Regions from separate parts of the Homo sapiens genome. Here region 2 is linked to region 1. Evidence: fine-mapped expression QTL. A gene starts in region 1. The other region holds a variant in brackets. All regions are shown on one strand. Distances are between the middles of the regions.

Evidence for each region.
Region 2: its variant is fine-mapped to the expression of HMOX2 in whole blood (TOPMed, PIP 0.92).

Annotation. Positions count from the first base shown.
Region 1 is chr16:4,474,947-4,477,850 of GRCh38, reverse strand. HMOX2 (heme oxygenase 2) reads right to left here and starts at 1,453. Exons shown (of 6, transcript NM_002134.4): 1 at 1,364-1,453. It also overlaps a transcript of NMRAL1 not described here. RefSeq lists an enhancer at 1,156-1,657.
Region 2 is chr16:4,503,007-4,505,910 of GRCh38, reverse strand. HMOX2 (heme oxygenase 2) reads right to left here. Exons shown (of 6, transcript NM_002134.4): 2 at 301-427. The coding sequence starts at 386. Among named protein-coding and RNA genes, the nearest start is that of HMOX2, 28 kb to the right of the region's middle. The variant G/A (reference allele first, on the strand shown) is at 1,430.

The sequences.
Region 1 (2,904 bases):
TTCGTGGGCTCAAGTGATCCTCCAACCTCAAACTCCCCAGTAGCTGGGATTACAGACACGCGCCACCCCGCCCGTTTAACTTTTTTGTATTTTTAGTAGAGACGGGGTTTCACCATGTTGGCCAGGCTGATCTCGAACTCCTGACCTCAGGTGATCCGCCTGCCTCGGCCTCCCAAAGTGCTGGGATTACAGGAGTGAGCCACTGCACCGGCCAGCGTTTCTTTCTTCAATCACACTCCACCTTGTCTGGTTTGTAGCGCCATCAACAAAACACAGTACGTAAGGATGGACAGCCACAGGCCACGACAACCGGCTCATCAGAAGCGATTTTTTTTTTTTTTTTTTTTTTTTTTAGATGGAGTCTTGCTCTGTCGCCCAGGCTGGAGTGCAATGGCGTGATCTCGGCTCACTGCAACCTCTGCCTCCCGGGTTCAAGCGATTCTCCTGCCTCAGCCTCCTAAGTAGCTGGAGCTACAGGCTCACGTTACCATGCCCGGCTGATTTTTGTATTTTTAGTAGAGACGGGGTTTCACTATGTTGGCCAGGCTGGTCTCGGACTCCTGACCTCAAGCAATCCGCCCGCCCTGGCCTCCCAAAGTGCTGGAATTACAGGCGTGAGCCACCGACCCGGCCCAGACGCGATTTAAATGGCATGACACAGGCAGGCCTCGTGCAAAGACTGCAAGGAGGTCCCGGCAGCTTTTGCAGGGCAATTAATCCACCCAGAGCACTGCGCTCAGAAAGTAATAGGTAAACCCGCGTCCGGACTAACCGGCTGCCCCCACACTTGATCCCTCCCAGTCCGACTCTGCTCCAGGGCGTACCAGGGTTCACTCGTGAAGTCACGACACCCACTCAAGGGGCACTTCCTATAGAGATAAGGGCATTAGAGGAAGGGCAGAGCCCCGGTCAATGCCAACAGCCCGGGAAACAGCCAAGCCGGGCTCCAATCTCTGCCGGCATCCCCTGTCTGCACCGCCGACGCCCCCAGCTACGACCCCGGGGGTCACCTCGCCCAGCATAGCCGTGACGCTGGGAGAGGGTGGGCCCAACGGGGACGCCAAAGAGAGCCATTCAGGCCTCCCCGCGCCCCCGGGGAGACGACTTCTGGAGAGCGGCGTCCGCGGTTTCGCCCTCCCCTGACAGCCCCTCCACGCCCTTCTTCGTCCTTCTGCCCGGCCTCACCCAGCTTCCGGCCGCCCCCGGCCGGGTCTCCCCTCAGACCGGCGCAGGGGACCCAAAGGGCTGTGGCCCGGCCAAGCCCAGGTCCGAAGGCCTGGACCGAGGCAGGGCCCGCGAAGGACGCAGCGCGGTCCGAGAAGCCGGGCGGAAGGAAGGCCCCGGGAGGGCGCGGACAGCTCACCTGCCGCAGGTCGCTGTCGCCTGTCCGCCAGCCTCCAGTCAGCGTGCCCGTCAGCGACTCCCTCAGGCGCCGCAGTCCCTGCAGCCCAGCGGACTGGCGCGAGGCCGGCGCAACGTGGGCACGCAGCGCGGGGCGGGGCCTAGAGATGACACGCCCCTTGTAGCTGACACGCCCTTGCCGGGGGCGGGAAGCGGAGTATGTGGCTTTCCCCAGGTCTCTGGAGGTTGCAGGCTCAGGCTCTGCTCAGCGGGGTAAGTAGGCGTGCTTCGGCAGGAACACTAGTGTTCACAAGAGCCGAGGTGTGTGAGGGTGCCTCAGGGTTGAGCACTTTTCTTCCCCAGTGTGGTTTAATCCTTGTACATCCACTCAGTGATGTAAGAAATAGGGTTGTCAACCGTGGCACCACCCACTTGGTCACTTGCCAATGCAATCTGCGAAACTGAGTCTCAACTCTGACACCTCGGTTACCAGTCTTGTATCTGATCTCCCTGTTGCATTATTCGCATTCTTCAAACAGCGGCCAGAATGACAGAATGATTTTTCTTTTTTTGAGACCGAGTTTTGCTCGTCGCCCAGGCTGGAGTGCAATGACGTGATCTCGGCTCACTGCAACCCCCTTCTCCCGGGTTCAAGCGATTCTCCTGCCTTAACCTCCCGAATAGCTGGGATTACAAGCGCCTGCCACCACGCCCGGCTAATTTTTGTATTTTTAGTAGAGACGGGGGTTTCACCATGTTGGCCAGGCTGGTCTCGAACTCCTGAGCTCAGGTGATCCACCCGCCTCGGCCTCCCAAATCACTGCAATTACAGGCCACCGCACCCAGCCCAGAGTCATTTTTTAGTTTTACTGAACACAAAGAAATTACTGAAATCGTGGGCCGGGTGTGGTGGCTCATGTCTGTAATCCCAGCACTTTGGGAGCCTGAGGCGGGAAGATCACTTGAGGTCAGCAGTTCGAGACCAGCCTGGCCAGCATGTTGAAACCCCGTCTCTACCAAAAATACAAAAAAATTTTAGCCGGGCATGGTGGCTCCTGCCTGTAATCCCAGCTACTCAGGAAACTGAGGCAGGAGAATCACTTGAACCCAAGAGGCGGAAGTTGCAGTGAGCCAAGATCGCACCACCACTGCACTCCAGCCTGGGCCACAGAGCAAGACTCCACCTTGAAAACAAAAAACAAAAACAAAAAAAAACTGAAATCAGTGCAAGTAGCAGCAACTTCAGAAGTGAGTTAGGGCTGGGCACGGTGGCTCCCACCTGTACTCCCAGCACTTTGGGAGGCTGAGGTGGGTGGATCACTTTAAGTCAGGAGTTCGAGACCTGCCTGGTCAACCTGGTGAAACCCCGTCTCTACTAAAAAATACAAAAATTAGCCGGGCTTGGTGGCACATGCTTGTAATCCCAGCTACTCGGGAGGCTGAGGCAGGAGAATCTCTTGAACCCGGGGGGCGGAGGTTGCAGTAAGCCGAGATCGCGCCACTGCACACCAGCCTGGGCGACGGACCAAGACACTGTCTCAAAAAAATAAAAATAATAAAATT
Region 2 (2,904 bases), 28 kb before region 1:
TCAGCCCAGATGAGGAAACGCACAAGTTTTTAAAAAGAAAAAAGGATAACTACCATCAAATCCTATCAGCACTCCCAGGAGCACCTGCCCTGCCTCCTTGGATGAGACAATGGACCAGTGGGGAGAGTTCTAAGCAGCCGAAGCTGTATGCGGTCCCTGCAGGGCCAAGCAGGCACCCAGGGGTCCAGAGCTCATGGCCCATGGCCACTCCCCAGTGCTGCCAACAGACAAAACCAGGTGTGCTGAGCACGACAGGTGCTGGGCCCACCTGATTCAGTGCAGCCAGCCCCCATCGCTCACCTCATTTGGTTCTCCTTTTCTAGGGCCCCAGAGTTCTTTTTTTCTGACTCGTCTACCCCCTCTGAGGTTTCCACTTCCGCTGACATTGCTGCTGGGTGTGGTTCTTGCTGCTCTCGCTCCTCTGGTCCTGCAGAGACACAAGGAGCTGGTGATGTGGCACCCACGGCAGTCACTTCCCCAAATACCTGTCGGTTCTGCTTTCCTCAGAGCGAATGTAACCAAGGTGACACCCACACACCCCAGGATTGTTTTCTTTAAAATAAAGCTCTGCCATTACTGGGACCATAGTGGAATATGGAAAAAATCTGAATATGAACAATGTATTAGGTAATAGCATTGTATTGACATTAAGCTTGCTGGTTTTTAAAAATAATTGTACTGCGATTATATAAGAGAATGTCTTTGTTCCTAAGAAATACACACTGGGGTATTCAGAAGTAAAGGTACACTGCCTGCAACTCCCTGTCAGATGGTTCAGAAGACAGTGTGTGTGCATGTGCATATGCTGCAGGGTGGGGGACACTGGCAAGTCAGAAAAGCAAACAAGGCAAAATCCTAGCAGTGAATCTGGGGAAGAGGTATGAGAGTTCTTTGTACTATTCTTACCATTTTTCTGTATGCTTAAAACTGTATCAAGGCAGGGCACAGTGGCTCATGCCTGTAATCCCAGCACTTTGGGAGGCCGAGGCAGACTGGAGTTTGAGACTAGCCTGGTTAACATGGTGAAACCCTGTCTCTACTAAAAATACAAAAAATAGCCGGGCATGGTGGTGCACACTTGTAATCCCAGCTACTCGGGAGGCTCAGGCAGGAGAATCTCTTGAGCCCAGGAGGCAGAGGTTGCAGTGAGCCGAGATCACGCCGTTGCACTCCAGCCTGGGCAACAAGAGCGAAACTGTCTTAAAAAAAAAAAAAAAAAAAAAAAAAAGACCGTATCAAAATTAAAAGTTAGGCCAGACACGGTGGCTCATGCCTGTAATCCCACCACTTTGGGAGGCCAAGGTGGGTGGATCACCTGAGGTTAGGAGTTTAAGACCAGCCTGACCAACATGGAGAAACCCTGTTTCTACTAAAAATGCAAAATTAGCCGGATGTGGTGGCGCGTGCCTGTAATCCCAGCTACTCAGGA[G/A]GCTGAGGCAGGAGAATCACTTGAACCTACGAAGCAGAAGTTGCAGTGAGCCAAGATCGCGCCACTGCACTCCAGCCTGGGCAATAAGAGTGAAACTCTGTCCAAAAAAAAAAAAAAAAAAAAAAAATTGAAAGTTACCAAAAACAAAGAAAACCTCAAAAACCTTAGGGAAACAAAAAGCTTGGCAAGCAACGCACAGTTCCACCCCTCTGCAAGCGTGCTGAGGCCAGTTCATCCTACCTGTGAGAGGCTGGGTGCCTTGTGCAGAAGGCAGCCTACAGGAGTTACCAAAAAAGCAGACTGTCCCTAGCCTACTCAGGACTTTGCTAGGCTGAAGGAAATATTAAGTTGGCCAATCAATTCCCATTGCCTGCTGCAAATGCTGAGCCTTTGTCAGCCAGGGAAACACAGTCCCATAACAAGGCAAGCTCATCCTCCATCCCTCGGGGCTTCTGCTCAGGCAATGTAAGGCGCAGCCCATTTGGGGAATCTTCCACATGAATAGCAGCACAGTAGCACCGACAACTAATAAAGTAACTCACAAAGACAGAACTGGGGCCAAATCAGGCCAAACTGGGCCAAGGAAAAAGAACTTATTTACTGAGCATTTTCTATGTGCTCTACCCAGAAACAGGTGTCAAGAAGAACACAGAAGTGTTAAGAAATGGTCCTTAAAAGGCCCAAGGCACATATCCTTCCTGAGTTTTCTCTAGATACCTAGTTACATTTTTGTTATCTTTTAGGATATTATAGTACATGGTTTGCTCACTGAGGTCTTTTTGAACCATCTCTCTCACCTTTAGATTTAGCATCTCTACTGGGATTATTTTAGGAAGTCAAGCAATAACTCATATAGCACAATGCCTACCATGTGATAAGCACTCAATGAATGTTACATCATGATCATACTTTATTTTGACTGAGGCTTAGTGATGTCTGAGAACACTCAGAAAATAAACATCGGGATGTACAGAAAAATGGAACCTTCTCTTGACTCCAAATCAGAGACACTCTACTCTGCAATAATGCTGATGAACTGTACGATGCACAGCACAGTCTAGAAGAATGTGAAAGCAGGCAGGTATTACATGCAGGGAAGAGTATGCAGAGGGCTTCCTGGGGCAGGACCCTCAACACAGACAGGATTTGGGGCAGGGCTGGGGGAGGGCCTCCAGATCAAGGGAATATTATGAACAAAGCCAGAAATGGGTAGTTCACAGAGATAGCATAAGGCTGCCCAGCTGTGCGTCCACTTACCAAGGGGCAAAAACAGGCATTGCAAGCTGTAGAATAAGCCTCACATGGGCCTTCAGACCTTGATTTATAAATGTTTTCTTTTTTTTTTTTGGTAAAAGTACAGCTTTGCTAGCCGGGCGCGGTGGCTCACGCCTGTAATCCCAACACTTTGGGAGGCCGAGGTGGGCAGATCAGGAGGTCAGGAGTCCGAGACCGGCCTGGCCAACATGGTAAAACCC